4 linked regions of the Homo sapiens genome follow. The protein of the gene in region 4 interacts with the protein of the main gene of each other region in a biochemical or structural test. Each region holds a gene or a part of one and is shown on either strand. Other genes may lie near its edges.

Evidence for each region.
Region 1: the proteins of SNTA1 (region 4) and SCN4A interact in a test that uses a peptide from one of them, tested with the Homo sapiens proteins (2 studies listed by BioGRID and IntAct).
Region 2: the proteins of SNTA1 (region 4) and GUCY1A2 interact in a test that uses a peptide from one of them, tested with the Homo sapiens proteins (3 studies listed by BioGRID and IntAct, with this or other methods).
Region 3: the proteins of SNTA1 (region 4) and SLC16A7 interact in a test that uses a peptide from one of them, tested with the Homo sapiens proteins (3 studies listed by BioGRID and IntAct, with this or other methods).

What each region holds. Positions count from the first base shown.
Region 1 is NC_000017.11:63,969,585-63,976,735, reverse strand, and holds the start of SCN4A (sodium channel protein type 4 subunit alpha), read left to right. Parts: upstream 1-3,817; 5' UTR 3,818-3,894; coding exon 3,895-4,167; intron 4,168-4,265; coding exon 4,266-4,384; intron 4,385-4,510; coding exon 4,511-4,600; intron 4,601-4,885; coding exon 4,886-5,014; intron 5,015-5,482; coding exon 5,483-5,574; intron 5,575-7,151. UniProt on the Homo sapiens protein: Pore-forming subunit of Nav1.4, a voltage-gated sodium (Nav) channel that directly mediates the depolarizing phase of action potentials in excitable membranes.
Region 2 is NC_000011.10:107,015,380-107,023,674, forward strand, and holds the start of GUCY1A2 (guanylate cyclase soluble subunit alpha-2), read right to left. Parts: upstream 3,098-8,295; 5' UTR 2,677-3,097; coding exon 2,374-2,676; intron 1-2,373. UniProt on the Homo sapiens protein: Has guanylyl cyclase on binding to the beta-1 subunit. Isoform 2 acts as a negative regulator of guanylyl cyclase activity as it forms non-functional heterodimers with the beta subunits.
Region 3 is NC_000012.12:59,591,159-59,599,326, forward strand, and holds the start of SLC16A7 (monocarboxylate transporter 2), read left to right. Parts: upstream 1-4,870; 5' UTR 4,871-5,078; intron 5,079-8,168. UniProt on the Homo sapiens protein: Proton-coupled monocarboxylate symporter. Catalyzes the rapid transport across the plasma membrane of monocarboxylates such as L-lactate, pyruvate and ketone bodies, acetoacetate, beta-hydroxybutyrate and acetate.
Region 4 is NC_000020.11:33,440,541-33,448,667, reverse strand, and holds the start of SNTA1 (alpha-1-syntrophin), read left to right. Parts: upstream 1-4,904; 5' UTR 4,905-5,047; coding exon 5,048-5,357; intron 5,358-7,355; exon of another isoform or gene 7,356-7,550; intron 7,551-8,127. UniProt on the Homo sapiens protein: Adapter protein that binds to and probably organizes the subcellular localization of a variety of membrane proteins. May link various receptors to the actin cytoskeleton and the extracellular matrix via the dystrophin glycoprotein complex.

The sequences.
Region 1 (7,151 bases), on a different chromosome or scaffold from region 4:
TTTGTCACCACTGCCATTGTTTTTAAAGTGGGGGACACTAGAGTCTGTTCACAGATGGGGAGAGGTGGATGGGCAGTAGAGAGAGGGCACCTGGAGAGGTCTTTGAGAAGCAAGAGGGGCTGGGGTCCTGAGCCCCAGGAAAGCCTGACCCTTGCTTCTTATTATTATTCTAACAGGATAGAGGAAGACGGGGTGGGATGGGGAGATGGTTCTGTGGATTTGACAGTGTGTGTGTAGTGGTTCTTCCTTCCTCAGGGAAGACCATCAGCTGGGAGGCTCATGGGGAGGAGCGCGGAGGTCTGAGGAAAGAGGAGAAGGCATGAAATAGTTGTTTTCAAAAAGTGGAAAAGTGAGCCTACCAGAAAAATCCACACTACAGGGCTGGCAGGATTGAGGACAAACCCAGAATATGTGACCATGAATTTACGGTGAGCTCAGCCTAGTCATACCATTTCCCCAGCCACATTTCTCCAGCTCGGGGCTGACTTTGGAAAACCAGAGCTGGGGACATGCAGTTAGGGGTTCCCCAGGACTGTGTGATAGAAGGAGAGAGATCCCTCCTTCTGGGATCTCTCCCTGGGAGCTGTGGAGGAGGGACCAGAATGATGATCTTCTAAGTAAGCCTAGATGAGGAGGGACATGAAGTCAGAAGCAGGTGGAAAGGGAGAAAGTGCAGGGTCAAAGAACTGAAAGTGCCCAAAGATTATAGCAACCGGGCCCCTGAGCCAGGAGCTGAGAAGGTGGCAGGGGCAAAGGAAGAGTTTGAAGTGGTGATTTCAGAGGAGATATGGTTTCTGGTTATGATTTAGGTTCAGGGTATGCTTAAAGGAGAAAAGAGCTAAGGTAGAGTGTCCCTGTGATTCACTCACTTATTCATTTGATAAACTTTTATTGAGCTGGTGACACAAACAAGGGGAGAGTTCCACCCAGCCAGGGTACCCAGGGAGGGCTTCCTGGAGGAGGTGGTTCTTGTGTGGGTTGAGTCTAGAAAGATGAATGGAAGCTCTCCAGGGAGACAAAGAAGATGGGTGCTCTGGGAGGAGAGCAAACCACAAGCAAAGGCATGGGGGTTAGGGCAGGGGGGTGGAAAACAGCTTGGCCCATTTGTGAAAATGGAGGTAGCATGGCCAGAGGATGCGGGAAGGGTAGGCAATGAGGCAGGGATCTGATCATGGAGGGCCTTGGGAGCCCTGGGTAGGGCTTAGGACGTACTCCTAAGCAGTGGAAAGCCATTGAAGATTTAAGCAGGGGGTGAAATTTGTGACTTTACAAATATTTATGGCAGTCTAGGGGAGAGCCTGGTGGGAGGTGTTTCTTTGGTTGGTTTTTGAGACAGGGTCTCACTCTGTCACCCAGGCTGGAGGACAGTGGCACCATCATGGCTCACTGCAGCCTCGAACTCCTGAGCTTAAGGGATCCTCCTGCCTTCGTAGCTGGGACTACAGGAGCATGTCACCACGCGGGGAGGTTATTTGAACAGAACAGGTGAGGGGTGGAGGGTGGAGAGGGCAGTGACACTGGAGAGGGAGCATCAGTAGGGTGTGGAACTGGCCAGATCTACCACCATGATGCTTCGGGCAGCCACCAACCAAAGCCAGCTTCAGCAAGTGGAACCAGTGAGGACATTCCTCCCCTCACATTACAAAACAGCCAGACCTCAGGGGTAATGGAGGAGTAGGAGAAGAGGAAATTAGGAGGAAGTGAACATTTTGAAGGGAGAGGTGTACGCTGTGCAAAGAAAACAGGCTGCAGAGCAGGCCCCAGAGAAGAAGCATCTTCCAGGGGCAGGGAAGGGGCAGGTCCCAGAGCAGAGCTGGGGAGAGTGGCCGGACGCACAGGTGATGTCCTGCTCCCAAGAAGAAAGGCGGTGTGCGGTGTGGGAAGCTCAGGAGGGCCAGCGGGGAAGAAAACACTGGATCTGTCCCCTGGGGAGCTCTGGTGACTCAGGTGAGAGTCATTTCCTCGAGTGCTGGGGTTGGGAGCCAGACTATGTGTCTGTGGGCTTTTGTGGCCCTACTTGGGCTCGTGTAATGAAAAGAGTGAGCAGTATCAGGACAGGAGGATCATCACAGCAGGGACTGCAGACTGGGTGGGTGCACAGCAGCCCTGGGGTCTCTTCAAGGCCATCTGGCTGGTTGGCGCCTTCTGTGTAGTGACAAGCAGCATGTGGGGGTGTACGTGGAGTGGGTGATGGGGAGGAAGGTGGCAAGGTATATGACAGAGCTGTGAGATGCAACTGGGAAGGTCTGCATGTGGGGTGGCTCCAGGCCGGGTGTGCGTGCATGTGCCTGTGTGTGCAAGTGTGTGCACATGCACGCCCACGCTCACGACAGGGGCCAGTGAGCAGCTGAGGGCAGGGTTGGCAGGAATAAGCAGAGTCATCCCCGTGGAAACACGACTCCCTGGGTGCTGTAAGGAGCAGCTGGGAGCCAGGCACAAGGGCGTGGCCAGCTCTGCCCAGTGGCTCTGGCCTCTCCCTGGCCACCCTCCCCACCTGTTGAGCAAGCCTGAGAAGCGCCCGTGCTGACCAGGGCAGGGGCGCTGCTGCAAGGGTCAAGGCCCACTGGGAGAGGTCCACCCTCAGGTGTGGCTTTGGGGGTCTCTAGGGGTCTGTCCAGGTCCCTGTGGTGCAGGGGTGGCTCCAGGTCTGTCCATGTGGGTCTGGCAGTGGCTGCCTGCAGCTGGTCTGCAGGGGTCTCACTGCAACTGCCTGCTGATGTGGTCATTCCCCCAGGGCCATTTGCAATAAGTGATCCCCCTTCCCTTCCACAGGAATAGGCTCTGGAGGGCTGGGCAGAAGGGGAGAGGGGCCAGGTGGGGCCCAGACCACACAATGCTCACAGGCATCAAAGGCTCCTTGTGGATGCCCCTTCCCCCAATCCAGCTTGTGCTGGGACCACCAGCCAAAAGCAGTCCCCAGGAGCTCTAGCCCTGCCCCCACCATTGGAGTTGTCCATCTCCTTGTCCCTGTGACCTTCCCTGTACGTCTTCTCTTCCACGTTAGCACCTGCAGCTCTCCAGATGCAATGTTCCTCTCCCAGTTCACCCTGCCTGCCCAGTGGGCTAGAGCCCCCAGGGCTGTGGGAGGGAACTGCTAGGAGACCCCTGCCGGGCCCAGGGCCCTTTCTTCTTCCCTCTCCCAGCCCAACACCAAGTACCCCAAAGATCAGGAAAGAGGAATCCACACCCACCCCCATCTTTCTTTTCCCTTCCCTCCAGGCCAGGGATGGCAAACACAGGCAGAGGCACCACGGTCTTCCTCCTTGCGCCCCTGGCAGACATCACTAATCAATCACAGCAACCTTTTTGCACAGAGCCTGGCTGCCACCTTCATGGTCTCCACCTACATCTCCAGGTGGCCAATATCAGGATCCACGTCGGCCCTCAGGGTGAAGTCCCTGTGCCAGTCCCACTTTGATCTAACCCCCCAACCAGGCCCCTCATCCTGGCCTATCCAGAGGTCGCCTGAGCACAGCCAGCTGTGGTTCTCTCTCTGTCCCATTAGGCTGAAGCCACACAGTTCCCGGAGCTTGGGCCCAGGAGGCAGTCGAAGGCACTGGGGTGTTGACCCCAAGTCCCAAGGCCACAAAGAATCTGGTTGGTTTGCCGTCGGTCCTGAGGGCAGCCGCTGCCACTTCTGGGGAAAGTGTGGTGGGGGGGCCAGGGGTGATGCTCTGTGCCCAGCACCTGTGCAGCAGCAGCACCTTGCAGGCACATCTCCCAGTCCTGATAGAGTCTGCACGCCCACCTCCCCGGCTCGGCCACTGGGCAAGCAGGAGGTGAGGAGTGGACGGCCCGCCCAGGGAGGGGCGGCCGCCCAGCACCCCGGGGCTGCGCACTGCAGCTCCCCAGGCCACCCACCACCCTTCTGGTCTCTGAGCCCAGGATGCGAGGATGGCCAGACCATCTCTGTGCACCCTGGTGCCTCTGGGCCCTGAGTGCTTGCGCCCCTTCACCCGGGAGTCACTGGCAGCCATAGAACAGCGGGCGGTGGAGGAGGAGGCCCGGCTGCAGCGGAATAAGCAGATGGAGATTGAGGAGCCCGAACGGAAGCCACGAAGTGACTTGGAGGCTGGCAAGAACCTACCCATGATCTACGGAGACCCCCCGCCGGAGGTCATCGGCATCCCCCTGGAGGACCTGGATCCCTACTACAGCAATAAGAAGGTCTGGGCCTGGGAAGGCTTCCTCTGTCTGTCTGCCATCCATCCATCTGTCTGCCTGTCTGTCTGTCCCTGGGTCTCACAGCCTCTCTCCCACCTTAGACCTTCATCGTACTCAACAAGGGCAAGGCCATCTTCCGCTTCTCCGCCACACCTGCTCTCTACCTGCTGAGCCCCTTCAGCGTAGTCAGGCGCGGGGCCATCAAGGTGCTCATCCATGCATATCCTGCCCAAGATGGGAGAGGCGGGAGGGGTTAGGGATGGGCGAGATGGGGTGCTGTGGCCCAGGAGACCCTCTATCACCTCCCATCCTAGCTGCTTCCTCACTTTCCTTGACCCTGCCCCACGCTGTTCAGCATGTTCATCATGATCACCATCTTGACCAACTGCGTATTCATGACCATGAGTGACCCGCCTCCCTGGTCCAAGAATGTGGAGTAAGTCTCCCTGCTCCCTGAGCTCCCCAGCCCTGGGACACAGCCCATCTCAGGTGTTTGCACCTCTGTGTGGTGCTGCTCTTGTCTTTCAGGGAGACACACTGTCATTGTGACCCTCATCCACACCTTGAGTCCCTGGGGTGGCCATGCTATCACTCGCTAGTGTCCTTAGCCACCTGAGTGGCATATTTCATTTCTGTGTCCCTCCCTTCTGGGGGTCTGTCGTTGCCACACTGACCCCTACCCAGGTGACATGCCTGTCCCGGCCGGCCCTCTCCCCCCCAGGTACACCTTCACAGGGATCTACACCTTTGAGTCCCTCATCAAGATACTGGCCCGAGGCTTCTGTGTCGACGACTTCACATTCCTCCGGGACCCCTGGAACTGGCTGGACTTCAGTGTCATCATGATGGCGTGAGCAGGGGCCCCAGGACATCCTGAGGCTGGGGTGGGTGAGGGGAGGGGGCCAGGCCTTAAAGAGGGAAGCTGCCTGGGCTGAGGGCTGCAGGGGACATCGGTCAGTTGTGCAGATGGGGAGCTGCACAATTCTAGAAGCTGCCATTCTCAGGGTCTGGCTCAGCACTCTCCTGATGGACTCCTGATAATCACATGAGGCAGCCCTGACCCACAGACCCATGGGTCCTCACCTGCTGGGTGAGCCGGGCTATCTTTGCCATCCCCACTCCCCCAGAGCTCCTGCACTGTCCTTCCCAACCCTTGGGCTCCCAGAGGAGCTTTGGGGGTGTCTGCCCTGCCCCCCAGACCCTGTGGTACCCCCAATTTCTTGGGAATCCTCATCCCAGGCCTGGAGGAGCCCTGATTTCTGTCCTACCACCCACCCCAGGCTCTGACAGTCCCCACCCCCCTCCACCCCCTACCCAGGTACCTGACAGAGTTTGTGGACTTGGGCAACATCTCAGCCCTGAGGACCTTCCGGGTGCTGCGGGCCCTCAAAACCATCACGGTCATCCCAGGTACTGGGGAGGTGCAGGGACCCTCTGCCTGAGCTGAGAGACCCCCGTACCATGTGCAGGCCTGGAACCTGACTCAGTGTCACAACACTCCCAGGCTGGTGTTTTTGTAGAACTCACAGCAAAGCCTGGACATACAGGGGCCCACGTGACCAGAGGGCAGATGGGGTCCTACATGGAAGGATGGGCGTTTGAGAGGCAGCATGGCAAGTTGGTTAAGAGCACAGACTCAGCTGGGCATGGTGGCTCACGCCTATAATCCCAGCACTTTGGGAGGCCAAGGCAAGTGGATCAACTAAGGTCAGGAGTTTGAGACCAGCCTGGCCAACAAGACAAAACCCTGTCTCTACTAAAAATACAAAAATTAGCCTGGCATGGTGGTGTGCACCTGTAGTCCCATCTACTCAGGAGGCTGAGGCAGGAGAATCACTTGAACCTGGGAAACAGAGGTGGCAGTCAGCCGAGATCACGCCACTGCACTCCAGCCTAGGCAACACAGTGAGATTCCATCTCAAAAAAAAAAAAGAAAACAAATTAGCTGGGCCTGGTTATGCTCTCCTATAGTCCCAGCTACTTGGGAGGCTAAGGCGGGAGGATAGTTTGAGCCCAGGAGATCAAGCCTGCTATGAGCTGTAATTTTGCCACTGCACTCCAGCCTGGGAAAAAGAACAAGACTCTGTCTCAAAAGAAAAAAGCACAGATTCTGGAGCCTGACTGCCTGGGTTCAATTCTCACCTTTACCACTTCCTAACTTTAACTTTGGGCAAGTGCCTCGCCCTGTCCATGTCTCAGTTTCCTTATCTGTGGCATATGGAGACTCATAGTACCACTCCTTGGATTGTTGTAAGGATTAAATGCCTTAATATCTGTAAGGCCCTCACAGCCCCTGGCCCATGGTTTGTGATATACACGTGTGTGCTCAATAAAATAAGCAGACAGAGCAGAGAAGAGAGAGACACAAAAAGGCTCCATGAGGAAAAGTCCAAGCTCTGAGAGCTCAATTAGGAACACACCAGGCACCTGCTGAGCAATAAGGTCAGAGCAATTCCAAAGTAATGCATCAACAAGCATGAAATCAATAGAATCCGAACATTCAGACCTGCAAAAGAGCATGTGGAGAAACTGGAGATTCTCTCCCAGTAAAGGAGAGAAAGAAAAAGGATAGAGATCAGGCTCTGGGAAGAGGGAAAATTGTTAAATCCTAATATGAGAAAGTACCTGAGGCCAGGTGTGGTGGCCCATACCTGTAATCCCAGCACTTTGGGAGGCCGAGACAGGTGAATCACTTGGGGTCAGGACTCTGAGACCAGCCTGGCCAACGTGGTGAAACCCCGTCTCTACTCAAAATACAAAAATTAGCTGGGCGTGGTGGCATGTGCCTGTAATCCCAGCTACCTGGGAGGCTGAGCAGGAGAATCACTTGAATCGAGGAGGCAGAAGTTGCAGTGAGCCGAGATCACACCACTGCACTCCAGCCTGGGCGACAGAGCGAGACTCTATCTCAAAAAAAAAAGAAAAGAAAAGAAAAGAAAGTAAGAAAGAAAGTACCTGAGCTATCTTCTAGTCTAAAGCCCTCTGAC
Region 2 (8,295 bases), on a different chromosome or scaffold from region 4:
ATTTAACTTATAAAAGTAACCATCAGAGACTATTTCCTTCCTCTTATTCTAGCAGAAAATACTGCATTTCTCAGTTTCTTTTATCTACTCCTCATGTAAGTTGTTGAAAATAGTCTTAGCTTAAATTAGCATTATCAGAGGCATTGACATTACTTTTTAGAAATCTGTAAATTCTCTTAGGCAAAAAAAAAAAAAAAAAAAAAAAAAAAAAAAAAAAAACCTCCAAGGTTATATCAACAATTCTCCCCAAACTAATCATTATCTTTAGCAAAATCATTTCATTAAATAAGAATCTGTTGTACTAAATAACTATTTTATTGCACAAATGTTGCTTTAAGTACTGACACAAGCCTACAGACGCTCGGGGTCATTGGACTCCTGTTGTAAATAAATATTTTCAACAATTTGCAACATCAAATAGTTTATAAAATTACGCTGCCTGGGAAATATTGGCAGGGAAGAACAGCAAAGAGTAGCCAATCTATTCTGAGGATTGTTTTCTAGGTTAATGATGAAAGAAAAAGTGGCAGAAAGATATATCAAATACGAAAATACACAAGAATAGGAAGATGACTGTTTCTCAATATGTGTTCCTAAGAATTAAATTAGTTCAAAATAAATAATGTAATAAGTGATTTATACATCTTCAATCAGGTCTCGTAAAAGAAAAAAATCATTCTCCATTAATACAAGTGCCACAAGAATATTTGTAGACCTGTCTGGTACCCGTACTCAGTCCCCTCAGGGTTCCACTCCTTCTTAGGTCCCCCCTACCATCATTTGCAGTAGTAATCTCAAAAGAGAGACTCAACAGTAATCAAACAAGATCAGTGTTCAGATTCATTTCGGAAACTTTAAAAAAGTAAAAGTCCTAGGGGTGGGCAGGTGAAAGTGCTGTCAGGAGGAGCTAAAGCTCTTGTATCCAAGGTCAGGGTGAGCATAAAAGATGGGTGGAGGTTTGACGCTGAATCTTTTTCAAATTCTGTCTGCAACAGAGTGGATTTCTTTAAAACAGAGCTCTCCCAGACACGGTAAGATTGGATCAGAGGTCTGGCATTCCTGCAAGAGGTAAAAGCCAAGGGTAGCTGAAATGCCTGGGCAGGAATAAGGCAGTACTCCTCTGGAAGGATGCCTACAACCAGGGGGAGTTTGTTGTACACCTGAAACTGCTGATACAGACATCCCAAGATGACCACAAGTTTGGAGAGGCATTTATTCATTCCACAAATATTTAGGAAGGGCCTAATATAAAGAAGCCACCAAAAAATGAGAGAGAAAGCACTAGAGAATCAATTGAAGAGAGAGTAAAGGATGAGGTGCAGGTGCAAGAAGTACAGAGCGGTTTAAATAGCTAATGTGAGAGAGAAAGCACTAGAGAATCCATTGAGGAGAGAGTAAAGGATGAGGTACAGGTGCAAGAAGTACAGAGAGGTTTAAATAGCTAATGTGAGAGAGAAAGCACTAGAGAATCCATTGAGGAGAGAGTAAAGGATGAGGTACAGGTGCAAGAAGTACAGAGCGGTTTAAATAGCTAATGCATGCGAAGCTTAATACCTAGGTGATGAGTTAGTAGGTGCAGCAAACCACCATGGCACACGTTTGGTACCTATGTAACAAATCTGCACATCCTGCACATGTAACCCGGGACTTTAAATTAAATTTAATTTAAAAAAAAAGAAATCCAGACACCAGGTTTACCCAGAGAAGAATAAATGCCTAGTGGATAAGAAAGAAAAAGAAAAAAAGCTACGGGGTGAGGACAACTCGAGATTAGAGATTACTTGAACAGAAGGCAACTCAGAAAAGTATCTGGCAAAAAGTATCTGAAGATGTGAGAAAAAGGATGCAACATAGAATGCAGATAGCCTGTGGAATTCAAAGATGTCAGAGAAGGTCACGCTAAGACCAAGAGAGTGTGGGAAATAAGGAGAGGAAGGGTTTCCTGGAAGGGGTTGGGGCTCCTTTGGGATGCTGGAGAACAGGATGAAAGACAGGGAAGCTGAACTGCAGAACACAGTGCCTGGGAAAGTTTAGGGGAAAGAAAACAGGTGGGTGTGAAGCAGCACTGGGGCTGTCCAGGGGGAACAGTGGTGAAGTAGGGTTCAAGGCTAGAGGTGGGCAGACAGGCCCCCGAATCAGGATACCCCAAAGGAGTGGAATCTTATTCCTTCCCAGTGCTGTAGTCCCCTCTTCCGCCCTAGCCTAGGGGATCCTCTGTCGCCGGAGCCACTGGAACCCTAGGCCGTGCAGGGTAAGGCCGGGCCGCCCCCCAGCGGTCGGGCTCTGCGCTCGCGCCCCGGCTCGCCCAGCGCCAACTTTACAGATCCGCGTTCTCTCCCCCGAAGGCGGTCCCCCCTTCCGCCCCCCGCTCACCGAGGGCGCCGTCAGGCGGCTGATGCTCTCGCCCAGCGAGTCCAGGTTGACCCGCCTCCGGCGCTGCACCCTCCTGGCCCCGGCAGTGGCAGCGGCGGCGGCGGCAGAAGCAGCCGGGGTCGGGGCCGGGGCGGCGGCAGCGGCAGCTGCGGCCGGGCTGGGCTCCAGCGGCCCGGGCGGGCTCCGGCTGCCATTCCAGCAGAGCCTAGACAGGGGGCACTCCCCCTCCTCCTCCGGGCTGGTCTCCAGGTAGTCGGAGCCCAGGGAGCTGAAGGACTCGGACGAAATCTTCCTTCGAGACATGCTGCCGGCGGAGCTGCAGCGGCCGAGGCGGTGGCGGCGAGGACGCGAGCGGCGGCGGAGGCGGCGGTGGCGGGACCGGCAAGCGACAACGTTAAGCGCGTCGGGGCCGCGGGGCGCTGCGGTCGCGCCCGGCGGGGCGGGAGTCCCCGGGGCCGCGGAGCCCCCCGAGCCGGCTGCTCATGGCGGGAACTTGGGGCGCCGCCGCACCTTGGGGCCCGGGCTCGGCGGCGGCGCCGGGCTGGGCTGGGGGCCGCCGCCGCCTCTGCTGCTGCTCGCGCGGCGCCGCCTCAGCGCCCGCCTCGGCGCATCGCCGTGCGCCGCGCTCCCGCTCACGGGGAGGCTCCGAGAGTGTGTGACCGCGGTCGGCGGGGCGGGGAGGGCTGCGGCCCAAGCAGAAGGGGAGGCAGAGGCAGAGGCTTCTGCCGCCTGCGCGCCTATCTCGCCCCCTTTCCCTCTCTGCTCCCGCCTCTCTCCACTTGCTGCCCTGCCTCCCTCCTTCTCCCTTTATCCCCCCGCCCCCCCCCATGCTCTCCCTCCGCGGGAATCACGTGTCGCCATCATACTCATTGGGAGTCTCTGCCTCGCCTGTCGCCACGTTTCAGGAGCAACGAGGACACTTCGTTGCTGTCCTCTGCGCGCCCTCCCTGCTCCGAGGAGGTGCGCACAGGAGCTCGGGTCGGACTGAGGGCCCCAACCCCAAACGCCTTATCCTCGGCCCTCGGGAGCAGATGGGTCCCGGCGGCGCTGGTGGGGAGAAGGGCTCGGGGCTGGGGGGCGAGAGGCCTCCCCCTGGAGCCACCTTGGGGAAACCTGACAGTGTGAAGTGGGGGTTAGGGTCCATGTTGTCCTTTCTCCGAGTTTATTTAGGAAGTTCCGAGGCAAAAGGGAAAGGCCAAGCGTCCAGCCAGCCCACTCCAGAGGAGACGCTTTCAGGGGAAGGGAAGGACAGGGGCAACATTTTGGCGCCCATCCTGCTGGAGCAGCTCCTGGGGACTTGTGTTCCCCGCCTCGTGCGAGGCCGTGTGGGCGCGGAGCGAGCCCAGAAAGGGGCGGCAGTGAGGACAGCGTCTGCTCTGACAAGACAGCACTGTTGCTGAGCCTCAGCCGGGCGGGGTGCGCGGGGCTCCCGGCTCCGCTGGCTCCTCACTAGTGCTGGACAGCTCCGCTTGCCACCTATAGCCGCCTTTGCAGGCGTTGAGAACTGGAGAACAGTTCCTCCTCAAACGACCTAGCACCTGGCCCGGGGGAAACCGGGGAATGATCCCACGTCCCTCATCCTCAGGGCTCTTTGCGCCAAATATGCGATCTGTTTGCACCTGACTGCAAATGCTGCTCAGAAAGCTAAGGGGAGTAGGGATAAATGCTTCTCGAACTGACTCGCCACAGCGCGAGCATGTCTTGCCGCGAGTTTTCAGCTGTGCGGCTTCATTCCAAAGCTTATCTCTTTGCAAACCAGTCCTTCCAGCGCCTGACCCCACTGCCCCTTGCCTTAGCCCCAGAAAACTCTCATACTGGTTCTGAGGATAGAGTAAGAGATGGGAAGAAGGGGCAAATGACAGTATCCCGAAAGGGGTTCCAGGCTGTACTTCCCCCTGCAATGAAGTGGATGAGCACCCTCCCCAGCTCACCCGATCTGCGGAGAGAAAAGTTTAGGGGCTCTGGCTTTAGTTTCCCAGTGAAACCGAAGCCAAAGCGTTTTTTTAATTAAAGAACTGGTCCTTCCAGGTGAAGGCAGATGGGTTTTTGTGGACTGTGTTTATTTAAAAAGCAAAACAAAACCAAACCACAAAACCTGTGCTGTACCCCCACCACAATTTGCTTTTAACTTCAAATCTTCCCAAGTGTTTGTTAGGGCTTAAATATAAATGCTATTTGAGGTTTCATTTGGAAAAATCCACTCAAACTGGTTCAGAGACATACCTTTTTCCCCAGATCTTAAATGGGCTTTAAAGATAGAAAAGTGTGTACTATCACTCAGACACTCCCCCTTCAAATTATATATATATATATATATATATATATATGTGTGTGTATATATATGTATATGTATATACATATACATATGAGAAAGAATATATATAATATATATTCTTATATATATGTATTCTTTCTCATCCTGAGGAAGTTTCTTTTAAAATAATAATTGTTACAATTATTATTTAAACTGTTGTGCATCTACTATTGATTTCCCCATTACTTCAATTAATTCTATGTGCATTTGTGTCCATTGAAAATTAGACTCAAATTACACTTTTAATCATAAAAAATCATCAGTTTTGCTAAAAAAGTTTCACTAGCCCCTTTTTCTAAATTATAATGAAAATTACATTATTCTAACTTTGGGGTAATTGTTTAATATTTCTGCTACACAGTATCAATCAGCATAAAGGATTGGAGTTCCTAGTTCTCTTCTTTGGTACTGATTATATAATAGTCAAGTTCTTTCGAATTATAGGATTTTAGTTAGTATTAAATATACTAAATAGCATGTGTCCTTCACATTCTTTCAATAAACTGCTGCGCACACAAATAAATATTATGGTAACGGCAAATAAACTTCATATTGAACTTAGAATTGGAACTTTTTATTAACCATTCCAACTCTTGTCTCAAAGTCAAAATTATTGAGTGCAAGGCAATGAGTATCATTTGTTTCTAAAATTTGTAAGAGGCCCAAGAGCCTTCCTGTTTACACTGGAAGTTTATTGCCAGAAAGAACTCTGAACCTATGGGACATTTTTTCTTTGTGTGAACCATTTGAATCAAAGACTCTTTACAGAATCTAGCCAGATGAAGTCGTCTTACAATTTTCTCTATGAATTACACCCTGCCTTTGATCATTATTTTCCCATGGATTTTTAAACTATAAACAAATCAAGGCCTAGATATAGCCAGTACAACATCTGCTTTGCTTTCAAGGGTTTCCTTTGTATTTCTGTTCAGGAGCGGGGTTCAAAAGCTCTCAATATGAAGAGTGCTGTGTTTATACTAGAATTGACATTTTTAAAATGAAGCATAGCTATTCTCCATTAAAAAAAAAGAAGAAGAAGAAGGCTTACAGTTAGCAAAAGCAATCTAAATACTTTAGGAAGAGTAGTCTGCTGAGAATGAATAGTCTGTGCTCTGATTTTAGGAAAAGAAGCTTGCCCAAGCTCATACCCACAAATCCAGCCCTGCTGGATATATTGTATTTCAATAAAGTATTTAAAGGCCACTCTCCAACTGGAAAAGAAAAATGCAGAAATATTCTTGGTTTATTTGTGAAGTTGGCGTAGGCACCTGACAACTCAGATTGATCAAGCATTGGGAAAGACTTCCTAAAAAAACAGATTCTTCACTTTAGTCAAGACGATGACTATTTTACATTGAAACATAAAGTAACTATTGTTTGTGCGTGCCTTCCCTTCACATAAATCAATCCTATTTATAAACCCTTTCACTTATATAGCCTCATTTAACCTGATTTTCATCCTTCTCAGAGAAGTTGTTGAAGAAAAGTCACGTGTGTCAAATTCAAATCAAAACCACAATCAGTCCTCCTTCCCAAAATTCTTTGCGTTTCCCAGGTTCAAACTCTTTACTAGTTTCTTTTCATCTAACACTCCAGCAAGAAAATCTGCAAGATTTGCATAAGCGTTCCCTGGAGCAGAGCTCTATCCTGATAGAAGACTGAAGAATTTCTCCCTGTCATTCTTTACATAAATCTGGCAATTCACAGGAATTGTACATGTAATATTAAAGCAAGTTTTCTAAAGAAATATAGTAGCTGGTGAATCCTTAACTAGGGCAAGTTTTTCTGGATCCCTAACCTGGAAAATCACACACACATACACACACACACACTTCACACTGTTCACCTGCTAGTTTAACCCTATGTTTGTGTTCGTGAATGAGATCTGTCTACTCTCTCACACTTAACATACCCCCTCTTTTACAAGAGGGCAAATGTGCTTTCTCTGAGAAATACTGGCAGCAAATAAGAGATACTGTACTTCATATTGTTGCACAATTTTGTAAGTAAAACTAAATATTAAGGAGGGCAAATGTGCTTTCTCTGAGAAAGACTGGCAGCAAATAAGAGATACTGTACTTCATATTGTTGCACAATTTTGTAAGTAAAACTAAATATTAAGGATAATATCAAAGTGAGAAGAACCATCTGCTGTGTTCACATATAAAGGGACACATAGAAGACAATGTAATCCATTGTCCTATAGTTATATTTTATCATAAAACCATCCCAAAGGGGTAGGATTCTTGCTGCTCAAAAAAGGATAGAGGAGGAGAAGGCTGGGGGAAAGGAGGAAAGAAAGAAAGACAAGCAACAAAGTCAATGCTACACTTAGTAGAATTTGTGACCCAGAAAGATACTTAAGGGTGTAATAACTGACTTTTTTTTGATGCATCAAATCCATGACAGCAAGAAAGAGGCAGGTGATCAGTGTATGTTGGTGCCTCTGGCAGACACTACTCTCTCCTTAAGTGGCTTTACATTCAACCATGCACCACAGGAATCCATCCTCCTCTTAAGAAGAGACCCTATTAGTCAACAGTTTGAATACTAATATCAGCACCACAGTCTCCTACAACTCTCAGCCTTTTTGTCTGCATACTCAACAATCCCAGGTCTCTATACACTTTATTTAAATTGGGATTCTTAATCCCAACATAATAGGACATATTTTTCCAATTATAAAGTTATGGAAATTCTGGCACAGAGATTTAAAATATCTTCCAATGTCATGGAGCTGATAAATATTAAAGTCAGAATTCCAATCCTGACTACTAAGCCCATGCTATTTCCACTGAAACACTTTTCCTGCCTGTCTCTTGTCCTCAAATGTCCTAAAAACAGATTTTAAAATATGCTGAATTAAAATCACAATGTGAGTGGGTTATTGCATTAAAATAAATATTAAATACACAATTAACTTGTATGAATTATGTCCTGGAACATAATGTGGAAAAGCACTGACATGTGCAGAAGTTCTACAGTTCTCTGCTGATAACTAGCTCTGTGACCAAAATCAAGTTGTTAACTGCTCTGGGACTCAAACCCTTCACCTCTAAATCAAAAGTGTTGGATAAAATCCTTAGGTTATCATCAATCCTCAAAATTCTGTAATTTTTCTATTTGTTGAACTGTTCATTTCCTTTCCAGATATATCTTGTGCCTAAAAAATGTACCCACATACATCATCATAAGGTTAGATTCTCTTTTTCTTCCCTGTCATATCCTTTCTGAGAATTCAATTCTTATACAGATCCCTCCTTAAACCACCCAAGATCCTCTCCTGATACAAAACTGCCATGAACATGGTCCATGGAATTAAATGGATAAAAAAAAATTTTTCAACTGAATCCTATTTGGTTAGATGCTCACTATCTCTCTGTCTTTTCATAACCTAATTCTTCTGTCTGCTTTATTGTATTATATAAAGGAATTATATCTTCCTGTCTGCAGCTTATTAAGCTTGACAGCTAACAATAATAAGTATGAATTATCAATAAGAATGCCTCAATATAACTTTGTTAATGTTAATAGACACTTACTTAAATATGTCCAATTTATAGTAAATATGCAGTCTGTTATTTAATCATTATTTTAAATAATAAATC
Region 3 (8,168 bases), on a different chromosome or scaffold from region 4:
GAAAGTGAAGCTATTAATAATTATTAAGATCTTAAAGTAAAAACATATGACTCAGAGAGGTTAAGGAACCCAGCAAAGATCAACTGTACAGAAAAAGGCACTAAAGCCTTAGCTTCTTGATAACACATTCAGTCATCATTGATTCATTTCATAAAATATATTAATACTCATTAGCCACCGTTTACAAGATTTCTGCCTGAAAAGTTTACAGTCTATGATGATAACTTTTAATTTAAGTTTCTAATCTTATATGCATTCAAAATAATCAGAATATTTACGTGGTAAAGCATCTATAAAACACCCAGAATCCATTAAGTTTAGTTTACAGATAATAATTGATAAAATGTAAATTTAGAAAAATACCCCAACAAACAAGTTTTTTAATACATAATCCGTTAAGAGATTTTTGGAGCCAAAAAACCCATTTTGTTTTAAACCAAAGATTCTTGTGTGCTATTATTTAAAGGCATACCATACAGCAATGCCAATGCAATTGATTCCCCTTTTATATGCTTTGTTGAATCGGACTAGATTGTCATTCCCCAAAATCCTATGGGAGTTTTTCATAGAAGATATTTCCAAAGTAGCCTATATAGATATACGCAAGATTTAAATCTAGAAGTAGTGGAGATATATTTCTATAGTTTGTATAATCTGTGAAACCAGGTCACAGCAATCATATTCACAGCTGCTAGCCAGCTACAATCTCAACCATAGTATGTTGCCACTTGAAGGCAGGTGTACATTTGTTTTCACCCAAGTTGAGGGGAGCATTGGGACATCTGGTCTTTTGTACTTAGCTATAACAAATCTATTGTGTGTAGTTTATAAACACACACACCCTTAATTTAATCTCACAGTCTTACTCTGAAAAGGCTATTATATGAATTTTGGGGTCATGAGACTATATTTTTAGTTTTGACTTAAGGACACATTAGTGCACTTTCAAAAGTTCAATGTTTCATTGGGGATTTTATGCCTTTATGATTTACAATTTCTTTTTTCGAGACGGAATTTTGCTCTTGCTGCCCAGGCTGGAGTGCAGTGTTGCGATCTTGGCTCACTGCAACCTCTGCCTCCCGGATTCAAGCGATTCTTCTGCCTCAGCCTCCCGAAGTACCTGGGATTACAGGTGCCCACCACCTCACCTGGCTAATTTTTTTTTTTTTTTTTTGTATTTTTAGTTGAGATGGGTTTTCACCATGTTGGCTAGGCTAGTCTTGAACTTCTGACCTCAGGTGATCTACCTGCCTTGGCCTCCCAAAGTGCTGGGATTACAAGCATGAGCCACCACGCCTGGCTGACTTATTGTCTTTTTCAGTAATATCTTATATTGGTCAGAATAGGCTAGGTTTTGTTCCCATGACAAATAGAGCCTGAAATTTCCAAGGCTTAAAACAATGGTCTCTTGCTCACACAAAGTACAGTGCAATTCAAGCAGTCTTTCTTTCTTTTTCAGAGATTCCATTTTGTAGCTAGTTCATCAGAAACATGGTACTATGGCAGGGAAAGGGAGTGATGAAGGAGGTACACTGGGTCTTAACTCCCTTTACCAGAAATTACACATGTCACTTCCATTCATACTGTTTTAGAACTACATAGTTGCATGGTCCCAATATAACTGTAAGGAAAGCCAGGAAGTGTGGAGCCAGGCAGATCATAGATATTGTGAGCACCAATAGCTTCTACCACATATCTGTTGCCTACAGCCACACTGTCATCTCTTTTCTTCATTTGGCAAACGTTACTATTTTCTATCTGCAACGATTTGTGCTGCATGATAGATGATTCTGTTACCCGAAAGGGGTACTGATTCAGACCCCAAGAGAGGGTTCTTGGATTTCATGCAAGAAATAATTTGGGATGAGTCTATAAATGAAAGCAGGAGTACTAGGAAAGTAAAGGAACAAAAAAATGGCTACACCATAGGCAGAGTAGCAGCATGGGCTGCTCCGCTGCTTATACTTATTATTACCTCTTGATTATATGTTAACAAGAGATGGATTATTCATGAGTTTTCTGGGAAAGGGGTGGGAAATTCTGGGAACTGAGGGTTTCTCCCCATTTTAGACCATATGGGGTAACTTCCTGACCTTACCATGGCATTTGTAAACTGTCATGGCACTGGTGGGAATGTCTTTTAGCATGCTAATGCATTGTAATTAGCACATAATGAGGAGTGAGGAGGACCAGAGGTCACTTTCGTCTCCATTTTGGTTTTGGTGGGTTTTAGCTGGCTTCTTTACTGCCGCCTGTTTTATCAGCATGGTCTTTATGACCTGTATCTTGTGCCAACCTCCTATCTTATTCTGTGACTAAGAATGCCTTAATCTCCTGGGAATGCAGCCCAATAAGTCTCAGCCTCATTTTACCCAGGCCTTACTCAAGATGGAGTCACTCTGGTTCAAATGCCTGTGACAATCCCAGAGATGAATAAAATGTCATCTCTACTTTCAAATAGCCTAATATATTGGGGCTACAGAAACAAAAATCATATTATAATATAGTCATATGTGAAGCTGAAACAAAATGCCCCAGATAGAGGCCTAAATCATTTTCTATGGGCAGGATCACAGAGAAAGATGAACTTAACCCTTATTTGTTAACAAAGAATCCTTAAAATGCTATAGAAGTGATGATATATTTGCTGGGCATTAAAGGAGGAAAAAAGGTTTAGACAAGTTTGATATGGAAAAGAGGGCAGTGAATGATAAAAGACAGAAAAATGTGAGAAGATTGTGTATGACTGAGGAATGAAGAAGGGAGAAAGAACCTAAACCACAAGGATGTGGGTATATAGTAAAAGACATGTGGACTTCATGAGTATATATGTGATGTACGTATTCACAGTTTGCTCATCTGTGGAATATGAGTTGCTAGAATGCTAAGTGTATTGCTATTTGTTTTTCCCACTGTTATTTCAGCTTATGAATATAAATCAAGGCAAACATTTTACCAGAGCATTCCAAGTTCTAATCATATGGCTTATTTTTTCCCTAAATTGTATTTTTTTCTCAATTTCTTAACAATATTAAACTGTAAGTCATAGGATAAACTGGCTGAATTTATTCTTAGCTGATTCTCCCTCCTTTCAGATACCTTTCTAGTCCAATCAAATTTTACATAACATACCTAGCTATCACAACAAAGCAATTTAGAAATGAGTTCCCAAATACTAACTCTGTGACAGTAGGTAAATTAGATCCAGAGTTTTAATTGTTGAAAAAACAAGACTTAAAAAGAAGGTTACGATATCATGCTATAAGTAGTGATGTTTGGCATTCAGCAATAGGTTAAACAGGTCAAGAACATGGGACTATAAGAAAAAAACAACAAAAAAGAAAAATCAAAGAGAAGGAAAAGGGAGAATAGGATCAAAATTCAGAAAGCATATGGTCTTTCTTCTTCCTCTTCTTTGACAGGAAATAAAAGTGATGAATGAGCAGGAAAAATATCAATAGCAAACACTCAAGACTATGACCTTGAAATGTGCCTTTATGTTGTTTCTTTTAAATGTTTAACTTTTTTTAATTAAATGAAGTGTTTATAGTCACTGCTAGACATTTCATCATTATCAAAGGCCTATTATGTCTTATACAAATGTCTATTTAAGCATTTTTAGCTTAAAAATATAAAATCCTTTCTGTAATTTTCTGCCTTTTTTTCATTTTCAAATATCATTCTTTCAATAAAATTATCTTCCAGTAATTTTGATGTTATTAATCACGATTATTTTTTCATCTTGTATTATGCCTACCAGCCACTTCATGTATATTATTTCACTTAAATCTTATGAAATCAACACGATTGATATTACTTTTATTTCATAGCTACAGAAATTGAAATTCAAATTTCGTCCATTACAACAGACTAGCTGTGGCAAAGACAATGTGAATTTACCCAAATGACTTAACTCTTTTTATAAATTCGTAAAATGTGAAGAATCATAGAACACACCTTAAAATGATTGTGAAATCAAGGAGGAGAAAGCTAGCTAAACTGGTAGACAAACTGCAATAGGACTTGTCAAGCCAAAACCTACAATTATTCTTTTGGATAGTTTCTTTTTCTCTAAAGTGGCAATTTAACTTAAAGATATTAAAGAAACCCAATCTATGGGGTTACTTAAATGTTCTCTTCCAGCCCTTCCTCTTTCCAGTTTTACCAAGAAGCACATTTTAGACAGGGGAAGAGACCAAACCAATGACAGCAGAATTACCATTATCTCTAGCACTATTCGTTGTCAAATAACTAAATGCTGGTTTGAAGAACTAAGTAATTTGAGAAATTAAAAATGAAAGGAATTATAAATGATTTGAAAAAAAATCCTTCTTATTTTTAATGTTTTTTGGTGCTGTTTTCTATGTCCTTCCTCCTATGGTGTCAATTATATTTTTTTCCGTGAAGTGATTTGGTTGGTGAGTCTAATCTCCAACAGTGCCCTACCTCTTTCTCCCAAAAAGGCCTCAGTTGAAAAATGGCTCAACACTTTCCCTGCAAGCTCACAATGAGGATCTCCTATTCTCCCTGCATTCGGCCAGACTCTTCTTTTTTTGCATGCTTTCCTCTCCCATGCTTGGGTTGCACAGAGCTACCGCACATCTGTCTTCTAGGTCAGGCTACAGAGTACTTCGGATACAGCAAGTTACGACCCATCTGGAAAGACAGATCTACCTGCCTTTTGGCTTTCTTCCTTGGTCAAAACTAAAATCCGAAGTGGAGTGCCCCGAGCGATAGAGAAAGTGCCTATAGCTTTGACAGCCGCTTGGAGCATGCTCAGTCGGTCTCCAGGCACCGGGAGGCGGCTCCCCCCCACCACCCCCCGGGCCGGCCTCCACCGCAGCCTGTCCGGCCCCCACCCCTGGCGCGCGCTCCTCCGCACCCACAAGGGCGTTCAGCAGCCGCGCCTCCCCTTCCCGCCACCGCCTCCTTCTCCGCTGGCTGTGGCGGGCGAGGACACGTCAGGGGCCATAAATAAATAAATAATTCCATTCACCCGTTGACAGCGAGGCGAATCGGCTGCGGTTTGCTGGGAACGGAGGGCTGCAGCGCCCACCCTGCGCCAGAGACCAGATAAAGTAAGTACAGCTGGGGAGGGAGGGGAGAGGAGGAGGAGGAGGAGGAGGTGCCGGCTAAGAGGAGGGCGAGCCTGCGTCTGCGACCCGAGCTGCCCGCGGAGCCGCACGCGTGTGTGCAAATAATGGCCAGCCTGTGACAAACGTGCCAACGCAGAGTTGGCCAGCGAGCCCTTATATAGACAAAAAAATCCCGAAGCGGCCGCGGGAGCAGAGCTCGCGTCAGCCAGTGCGCGCCGACAGCTGCCCGGGAACTGAGGGGGCGCGCGGGGTCCTGGGCAAGGAGCGCCTCGCGTGCTTTCGGCCAGGAGGTGCTCACGCTCTCGGCTTTTACACCGAGACTCAGCGTGGCGCGGTGCACCCCAGTCTCCCTGGCTCACGGGACTCCGAGGGCTGCTTCCAGTGCGGCGTGTCTCTAGTGCGCGCCCCGCCAGCATCCGGCCCCCGAGCCCCCTAGGGTGGCGTGGCTTCATTGCCGCAGAAGGTGGAGGCGGGGGTGGAGTGTGTGGAGAGAACGTCTTCTCTTTGAGCAGATGATCAGGACAGGAAGAGGCTGTGAGGGGAAGACGAAATACCGGGGGATGGGGGGGTTGTCTTTCTTCATTTTTGGTCCCCAGGAAGGATGGCAGGGGTGGAAGCAGATGGAAAACTATATGCGGGCGAGGCCTGAGCCCAGGCAGAAAGGGACCTCTGACTTGGCAAGGGTTCAGGAGGGCCTGAGCCTTCTGGTCTTGCTGGGCCACTGCACCACATTGGGGGCGCCAGGCCCGGTCAGGTGGCGCCACAGGCTGCGAGCCCGCTCACGTGCGAACTGCCTGTTTTCTCAGCGGATGCTGCATCGCGGCGCCCTTCTCCACCCCCTTTTCTCCTCTACTTCCGCGAAAAGGATTGCAGACTGCCTTGGAAAGGGCGGTCGTGCCCAGTGCCACTTTCCCGGTAGGGCTGAGGAGGGACTTCTGTAGTTCCAATTCCAGGGAAATTAAAATTTTACACACACACACACACACACACACACACACACACACACACACACACACGAGACATAGAAGAGGAAACGAGGAGTGGTTTCTCTACAATTGTTTTTTGATTTCCTTTCCTGTATTATTTCGTGTCCTCCTTCCCTCTTGGGTCCCAAAGGAGATGCGGCAGAGGAATAAAATAGCGGACAATGATGAAAGTGATGGGAAAAAGACTGGACCCAGAGGAAAGAGTGACTACTGGATGCCATTTCCTGTCACCCCATGCTTCATGGCTAACCCCAGTCTGAACTCAGAGGGTTGCAAACTTTCCACAGACAGGTTAGCTTGAATGTGTTGTGTTACTGGAACCACAAGCACTAAGTATGCATTTGGTGGAGTGTGGCTGAAAAATGAGAGTTGGGTGGGGACAGCAGAGGGCAAATGAGGGTTGAGCAAAGTGACTAATATTTAGCTCTGGTGAAGCAATCCTAACTCCAGGTTCTACTTCTGACTGAGCAGATTACATTTAAAGCAATCCAAGTGAGGGACTGAATGATCTCAGTGGAAAGGAAAGATTACAACCGTAAGAAACTCAGTGTATTGTGTAACAACTTACAAACTCAGAAACTATTTTTTGCAAATACAACAACAGTTTGCAGTTACATATTACTTTTTTCCCCCCAAGGCATGTTTGAATAATAAGTGATCTGAAATTTTAACATCTGTTTCCCGATGTTCAAATTAGTGTATCCTTCTATAAATGCTCAGTTTATTTCTAGACATTCATTTGCTCTTTGATAATGTCTGGCTTATATTTTTGGCTTTGAGCTCTTTTAAAGGGAAGGAGAGCAACATTACCTAAATAAACCTCCCTTGTCTGGAGTCATATTCCTGGATCACGGATCTGAAATAAAAGGCATCTCCAGAATTTGCTTTTAATTCTGTATTCATCCACCAAACATTTTTGAGACATTCACATGGAAAAAGGGAATTAACTTTAGAACAGATTGGTTCTGCACTTTTGTAAGGTTGAGTAATTGTTTAACAATCTGGGCTTTACCTTTTTCTTGTCTATAAAATGAGATTGGTGGTACCCACTCTGAAGTGATATTGGGAAGAATGAAGTGTGTGGTAAGTACCTAGAATACAGACGGGCTATATTTGAGCCCCTATAATCAGTCTAGACACCCTACCAGGGTTGCCAAGATGAATGAGGCTGTAATTCTGCTTTCAAGAAGTTCTCATATAGTCAGTCATTCAGGTTAATCTTTCTTGTATCCCATTTGCCTTTTAGTCCATTTTTTTTCTCCTCTTGATGGAAGAAACATATATCCAAGTAACTTGAAAGGAACTCCACAGTTGTAAGAAATGTTGGTAAGATCTGCTAAAAGGCAAATTTGAGAAGAATGTCTTTTCTCAGGAACCTGTATTCAGCCCATTTTTTGTCCATTAATAGTGATCCTTAATGAATAAAAACAGGTAATGAAGGATTTTTCTTCATGTTATGAGGGCAGGATGATCCTTCTCTGAAGATTATCTTTGTCAATGAATTGATTTCCATTATTTGAGAGAAGAGTTTGAGTTGCAGTTTCTACTACACCTTGGGCAAACCAATCCACTCACTCCTAAGAGTATAAAGTAACTGTAGTATATAATAACTATAATGACAACTCTGTAATGCTCACCATATTCCAGGCACTGTGCTACTACTGTCTGATAGCATGTAGCAACCATTTGAGGTGGATCTGTCCATATCCATATTTACAGAAAAAAGAATTTATGCCCAGAAAGTTTCATAGCTTATTCAGCTGGTACAGTTAGTAAGTGGTTGAGCTGGGGCAAGCACCGATGCGATCTGTTTGGCTTTAACCACTGTGTCATATAGCTTCTGCCTTGCATGAAGCTAAATAAGAGCAAAGACCTTACCTGTTGTTTTCTCCATAGCCCAGTACAGTGTCTGGCATGTCATGGTTCAGAACAACTGATTATAGAAAGAAGGAAAGAGGGAGGGAAGCAGAACTAGAGGGAAGGAGGAAGAGGAGGAAATAAAAATTAGCAAGTCCAAGTGTCTCCCGCCTTCAACACTGAATCTGGCAGGAAATCCAGCATGAACTCTGCCCTGAGAACACAATAG
Region 4 (8,127 bases):
ATTTAAGAGATAATTAAAGATTGGGCAAGAGGCATTTGGCCTTCTTTGATAGAAAGCTTTGCCTGCCACCTTCAGGCTGGGTGCAGTGGCTCATGCCTGTAATCCCAGCACTTTGGGAGGCTGAGGCGGGCAGGTTGCCTGAGGTCAGGAGTTTGAAACCAGCCTGGCCAACATGGTGAAATTCCGTTTCTACAAAAATACAAAAATTAGCTGGGCGTGGTGGCATGTGCCTGTAATCCCAGCTACTCTAGAGGCTGAGTTGGAAGAATCGCTTGAACCTGGGAGGCAGAGGTTGCAGTGAGTCAAGATAGTGCCATTGCACTCCAGCCTGGGTGACAGAGTGAGACTCAGTCTCAAAATAAAATAAAATAAAATAAAATAAAAAACTAAATAAAAAGAGGCTGGGTGCGATGGCTCACACCTGTAATTCCAGCACTTTGGGAGGCCGAGGTGGGCGGATCATCTGAGGTCAGGAGTTCAAGACCATCCTGGCCAACGTGGTGAAACCCCCTTTTTTTTTTTTTTTTTGAGACAGAGTCTCACTCTGTCACCCAGGCTGGAGTGCAGTGGTGTGATCTCAGCTCACTGCAACATCTGCCTCCTGGGTTCAAGAGATTCTCCTGCCTCAGCCTTCCAAGAAGGTGGGACTACAGGCGTGTACCAACATGCCTGGCCAATTTTTTGTATTTTTAGTAGAGATGGGGTTTCACTGCAGAAACCCTGTTTTTACTAAAAATACAGAAATTAGCTGGGTGTGATGGCGGGCGCCTGTAATCCCAGCTGCTTGGAAGGCTGAGGCAGGAGAATCGCTTGAACCCGGGAGGCGGAGGTTGCAGTGAGTGGAGATCGCGCCACTGCACCCCATCCTGGGCAATAGGAGTGAAACTCCGTCTTAAAAAAATAATAATAATAAATAAATAAAAAGAAAAATATTTAGCGCTAAATACTTAACAACATAGCAAATAATTTGGGAGAGTAAGTAATTGAAGATAATAGAGTGCTCTTAATACAACTAGAGAATATAACTTCCAAAAGCAGAAGGAGAAATGTCCATTTATGTGATGTTAAAAAATGTAAAACTAAACAGTAGATTGTTTAGGATTTATGCATAGATTTTTTTTTTTTTGAGACGGAGTCTCGCTTTGACACCCAGGCTGAGGTGCAGCAGCACATCTTGGTTCACTGCAAGCTCCGCCTCCCAGGTTCACGCCATTCTCCTGCCTCAGCCTCCTGAGTAGCTGGGACTACAGGCGCCCGCCACCACGCCCTGCTAATTTCTTTTTGTATTTTTAGTAGAGATGGGGTTTCACTGTGTTAGCCAGAATGGTCTTGATCTCCTGACCTCGCGATCCGCCCGCCTCGGCCTCCCAAAGTGCTGGGATTACAGGCATGAGCCACCGTGCCCAGCCAAGTTTTTGTATTTTAGTAGAGACGGGGTTTCACCATGTTGGTCAGGATGGTCTCGATAGCTTGACCTCGTGATCTGCCCACCTCGGCCTCCCAAAGTGCTGGGATTACAGGCTTGAGCCACCGTGCCCAGCTAATTTTCGTATTTTTGTAGAGAATGGGGTTTTACCATGTTGGCCAGGCTGCTGTTGAACTCCTGACCTCAGGTGATCCAGCCGCCTAGGCCTCCTAAAGTGCTGGGATTACAGGTGTGAGCCACCGCGCCTGGCCAGAGCTTGCAGAGACTTTAGTAGGCTGGGCAGCTCCCCTCTCTCCCTTTTTTTCCCCTTCCCCCTCTCCTATTCCTTGGGAGTGAACTGGTTTTCTCTGGGAGCTCTGCCTGGGGCTTGGCAGGGAGCCGGGCCTATGTGTATCTATCTGGGAGGCCAATTTCTGAGCCACAGCAGAGAGGCATCGGCTGACCACAGTGTAGGGATAGAGCATTCCTGCAGCTACAGGGTTCTTGGGGGTAGCTACAGGTGATTGGCACTGCCTATCAAGTGTGATCACAAACACACACACCCATACTCACATACAGACGTATACATATGCATACACACGTCACTGTTTCCTTGGCTCTACATCTTCTTTCTGTGTTAGCCCCTTTGCACACATCACTCCTTTCCCTACTTCCTTCCTTCCTGTTATATCCACAGGAAACTGTCCCCCAGAGGAGAAGCCCTCTCTTAGGGCTCTTTCTCAGTAAGTTTGTCTGGGCCTCATTAAGTCTTTTTTAAGCAGGGCAGTACGTGGGGGGACTTTTAAGGATCTGGTTCCAGGCTTTGGTCTTGGGAAAGGAGCTTCAATTCCCTGCTGGTCTCTTGCCTCCTGCCAGGTCTGTCCTCCCCTCCCTTCTCTACCATTGGAGTGAAGCTTCCACAAGCCAAGTAGGCTGTAGTTATTTATCACAAGTGCTTACCCCAAATTCCTCAGGCTGTCCTACAATCTTTAAGCACAGTCATACTTTTAAGATATCAATGCTTATATACAATGCTATATTCCTTCCCTGCCTCCCTTCTCTCCTTCCTTCCTCTCACTTTCTTTTATTTATTTTTGAGACAGGGTCTTGCTCTGTCACCCAGGCTGGAGTGCAGTGGCATGATTGTGGCTCACAGCAGCAGCCTCAAACAGGCCTCCTGCTGCAGCTTCCTAAGTAGCTGGGAGTACAGGTGCACATTACCACGCTTGGCTAATTTCTTTATTTTGTAGAGATGGAGTCTCGTGAAGTTGCCCAAGTGGTCTCAAACTCCTAGCCTCAAGTGATCATTCCTCCTCGGCATCCCATATATATATGTATAAAAGACCCTGGGTTCTTTTTTTAAAACCTGTGTCTCTCCTGTTTTGACACCTACCACTCTAACTTAAAACAATTCCTTTTTTTTGTTGTTGGTTTTTTTTTTTTTTTTTTTTGAGACGGAGTCTCACCCTATCACCCAGGCTGGAGTGCAGTGGTGCAATCTCTGCTTGCTGCAATCTCCGCCTCCCGGGTTCAAGTGATTCTCCTGCCTCAGCCTCCTGAGTAGCTGGGATTATAGGTGTCTGCCACCACGCCCGGCTAATTTTTTTATATTTTTAGTAGAGATGGGGTTTCACCATGTTGGCCAGGCTGAGTCTCAAACTCCTGACCTCGTGATCTACCTGCCTCGGCCTCCTAAAGTGCTGGGATTACAGGCATGAGCCACCATACCTGGCCCCCTCTTTTTTTTCTTGATGGTATCTTATGTGGAGGATTTTACCCAAAAGTTCAGGGAGGCTAAACACTGGTGTAGTCCTACTTATTTATTGCTCAACATATCCCAGCTAGGAATGGAGGATAGAGACAAGGAGCAGGTATGAAGGCCAGTTGAGCTGTGTGATGTGGTGGATTTTTCAGATTACAATCATGCTTTACCTCTGTATTTGTCAGCTGTCTAGCAGAGTGGTTCAGTGCCCAGGCACTGGTGTCAAACAGGCCTGGGTTTGAATCGCAGCTCTTCCTCACTCATAAATGTGTGACCTAGGCCAATTAGACTAAATCCAAGTTTTCCCTTCTGTATAATAGGGGTGCTCTTTTTTCTTGCTCTGTCACCAAGGCTGGAGTGTGATGGTGCAATCACAGCTCACTGCAGCCTGGACCTCCAAGGCTCAAGCGATCCTGCCACCTCAGCTGTGATTACAGGTGTGAGCCACTGTGCCCAGCTGGGGGTGCTCTTAGCTACTCCAGGAGGCTAATGTAAAGATAACACTTGGAAAATATTCTGCCAGCCCTAGGTAAGAGTAAGCATTCACTAAATGAAAGTGATTATTTCTATAGAATAGGGAGTCACAGTTTACCACGTGTTTTCACATTGATTTAATCCTCACACCAGCCCAGTGAAGTAGGTATTATTATGATCCACATTTTACAGATGAGGAAATTGAGGCCTAGAGCAGTGACGTGAGGGGACCAAAGTCGACTTGGAGCTAACAGAGGCAGCAAAGATTAGAAACCATGTCTCCAGTCGCCCAGACCCAGAGCCCCACCTTGCAACCCTCTTCCCACACACCAGTTCTGTTTTTTTTCTGCCAGGCCTCAAAGTGTGGGACTTCAGGCTTTTCTATACTCGACTGTGAACACAGCCAGGGGTTAATCTCTTAAACTTCCCTCCAGTTTTGAAGTGGGGATCCTGCCCACACCTCCCCCAAGCCCTAAGCGGTGTCGGTAGCGGTCTCCTCCAGGGGGCGGGGCCTGTCATCTTTAGAAGCCACGCCAGCGATAAGCCACGCCCACAGACCAAAGCCTCGACCCCCACCCCCCATCCCCCGCCCTCCCCGATAGGAAACCAACTTCTTCCTCAGCTCCCCAACTAGCAACTGTGCCCGCAAGGTCTCTCGCGGCTCAGCATCTACCTTTTTTTTTTTTTTTTTTTTTTGACACAGGGTTTCGCTCTGTCACCCAGGCTGGAGTGCAGTGGCGCGATCGCGGCTTACTGCAGCCTCGAGCTTCTGGGCTGTCATCTAGGCCTCCCAAAGTGTTGGGATTACAGGCGTGAGCCTCCACGCCCAGACGGTGTCTACCTCTTAAACTCAAGCCTTGGAGTCCAACGCTCTACCATACGCAGCCCAGCCCTCCGCCATATGCAGCCCAGCCCGATGCCCAGTGCTTCGCACCAGGATACGTGGTTCTGTCTCTTTTTCATGCGCTCCCACGTCCGGGAGTTACAGTCCCGGCCCTCGATGGGCATTCCGAGCGCCGAGCCCCCTGCGCGGGCTCACTGGGTTCCGCCCCCGACGCGAAGCCCCGCCCCCTGACGCCCCGCCCAGCACCACGCCTCCCGGGCTTTCGCCTTACTTAGTGGCCCGCCCCGCCGCCCTTCTGACCCACCCCGCTAGGTAGTCCCACACGGCGGCCCTCGGCTCCCGGGCCCCGCCCCGGCCTCCTGCATTTGCCCGAGGCCCCCTCCCCAGCACTGGCCACACCCCAGGGTAGCCCCGCCCCCAGAGCTCCTCCCCCAGCGGCCGGGGTAGGGTGGCGGCTGGCCCAGCCGGGCCCCCGCTGCCCTCTGCCCTGGGCGCTTGGTCGGAGCGGGCTGGGCAAAGCGGGACAGGGCGAGCGCGGCGGCCCGGGGGCTCGGAGGCGAAGATGGCGTCCGGCAGGCGCGCCCCGCGCACCGGGCTGCTGGAGCTGCGCGCCGGGGCGGGCTCGGGGGCCGGCGGCGAGCGATGGCAGCGGGTGCTGCTGAGTCTGGCGGAGGACGTGCTGACCGTGAGCCCCGCCGACGGCGACCCTGGTCCCGAGCCCGGCGCTCCGCGGGAGCAGGAGCCCGCGCAGCTCAACGGCGCCGCGGAGCCGGGCGCCGGGCCCCCGCAGCTGCCAGAGGCGCTACTGCTCCAGCGGCGCCGCGTGACGGTGCGCAAGGCCGACGCCGGTGGGCTGGGCATCAGCATCAAAGGTGGGCGCGGGACACCGAGGGCGCGGGGTCGTGGTGTCTGGGGGCAGCCGAGGGCGCAGGGGGCTGGCAGCGCGCCCAGGACATGGAGCTGGAGGCTTCCTGTCTGGGGGTAAGGGGGGTCTGAGGAAACAGGTAACGGAGGGCACTGGGCACACCAAGGTTGGAGGGGGTTTCAGTAGTTGGTGGCCTTAGGGGGCACGGAAGACACAGGTGTGGATAAGATTGTGGGAGCACCAAGGACACGTGGGTGGGAGTTCTGTGTGGAGGCGGGGGGGTCTGAGGGGTAACCAGCATGAACATCAAGGACAAGAGGGGTCCCCCGGAAAGCAGAGTGTGGAGAAAGGGGGTTGAGGCCGGGACACCAGTGGGACAGGGAGGAGGGAGTCCCTGAGAAGCAACCAAGGTGGGTGCAGAGGGGAAGCCTGGAGTCTGGGAAGCACAGGGGTGGATAGGAGGCCTGGGTGCAGGCACAGGCTGGGGTCACAGGCAGAAGGCCAGCAAGGACCTAGGAATCTAAGGACCCAGGAAGGCTGCAGGGAGCCCTGACAGCTGGATTTGGGTCTCCTGATCTGACTATCTCCACCTTGCACAGGATAGAGCTTTCAGCCCCCAGGACTGACCGCTAGTGGGGTGCAGTTAGGGTGCAACCAGACTGTGTTTGAATCCAGGATCAGCTGTGTGAGGTTGCAAAAGTCCCGTCCCGCCTCTGAATCTGTTTCCTCAACTGTATAAGAGGATGACAGAGTTGTGATGTTTCTGAGAGCAGGGCTCACCACACCAGCACACTGTAGGTGCCTAGTTAATTACTGCTGTTAGCGGAGAGGAAAAATGGAGGCCAGCAGATACTCCCAAAGCAACTAAACATAGTTGTTAAAATCCTTGCACACCCCCAGCTGCTGGGTTCACTATTCCTGCCCATCTGTTTCTCAGGGTCCCAGCCCCCAGCAGGTGCTTTGGGAAAGGGTATCAGCCTTTGTCTCCACCTTGAATACATACCGTACCCTCTGGGGTCTCCCTGGTACTGGTTCTGTTGACTAGTGCCTCCAGACCGTTTGGCTTGGCTGAGGCGGTGGGGATGGTGGTGAATGCCACCACTGTGTGCCAGGTGCTGTGCCCAGGACACTAGTCTCATGATCCACTTCATCCTGGCAACAAGTGGTGAAAGGTAGGGAGTATAATTCCCATATTGCAGGTGAAGAAACTGAGACTCAGAAAGTTAAAATGATTTTCCCACGATTACATAGTGAGTGTCAGTGCTGGGATTTGAACCTTAATTATCAGCTACTGTCCCTCAGAGAGTGCTCAGGGAAGTTGATTCTTTCCTGTAGAAGGGCAGATCCCCAGGCAGCCAACCAAGAGGGGCTAAAAAGGAGAAATGAGAAAATGAGGGTATGGGCACCAGTCTTACCCCCAATCTCCAGCATGGGATAGGGCAACAGATGAATCCAAAAATTATACACTCAGTGTGTCAAAGCAGGAAGGAACTTATTCATACAGAATTCCATTCTGCAGATGGACACACTGAGACTCAGAGAGGAGCAGGGACTTTGCAAGGTCACACAAAGTTACTCCCCAGCTCCATAATTCTAGGTGGAGGGGAGGGTACTTTTAGGAGACTTCAGGTATTTCCATTGGATCCAAATCTGGGCTCCTGTTGCCATGGTAACCCCTCCTATAAAGTCTAGCTTAGTCTGAGGCAGCCATGAGTGATCATAGCTTCAAACTGAACTGAAGCCCCTAGTTTCAGGTGGGGGAGGGCAGATATAAATAGAAACCCCTTCCTCTCCTAGACTTCAAGCTCTGTGCAGATAAGCAAACGGTCGGGCCTGTGTGGGCGTCAAGAGAGGTGTTCCAGTCCCAGCTCCGCCACCAGACTTGTGTGACCTTGGAACAATGACCTCCCACTCTGGGCCACTAATTCTTCATCTTCAGTATTCTGGGGATGAGCCAGGAGTGTGATATCTGAGGGCCTGACTTGTCGTCTGTGGTAGGGCTAATAGTGTTGGTTCTGGAGCCTGGAGGCCTAGGTGCAAATACTGGCTTCGCTACTTACTAGTGGAGTGACCTTGGACAAGGGGCTTCCCTCCACACTTCAGTTTCCCTAATAGGAAACTGAACATACCTATGTGATGGGGTATTGTAAAGACGCAATGAATCAACATTGAAAGCATTTAGCACAGTGCTTGGCATTTGGTAAGTGCAACTAAGGTGAACTCTTATTACTATTTCTTATTTTAAAAGGGCATTTAAGAGTTTGGTAATAAAGATGTTTAGTAAAATGTATTAGCTTCTTTTGTATCCAAGATGCCATTCAGGCAGGTTTTTAGAATCTCTAGACTCTAAGGCTTTGGTTTCCAGCCTGGACTTTGGATTGTAAAACATTATGATTGCTAAAGCAGTCTTTTGAGGCCATAGGAATAGCCGACTTGTCTCTTGATTCCGGTTTGAGGGGTATCAGTGGGTTCCCACATTGTTGCCTTTTTGTGTGTGTGTGTGAGACAGTCTTGCTCTGTTGCCCAGGGTGGAGTGCAGTGGTGCGATCTCGGCTCACTGCAATCTCCACCTCCTGGGTTCAAGCAGTTCTCGTGCCTCAGCCTCCTGAGTAGCTGGAATTATAGGCACACACCGCCATGCCTGGCTAATTTTTGTATTTTTGTTTTATTTTGAGATGGAGTCTTGTTCTGTCGCCCATGCTGGAGTGCAGTGGTGTGATCTTGGCTCACTGCAACCTCCACCTCCTGGGTTCAAGCAATTCTGCTGCCTCAGCCTC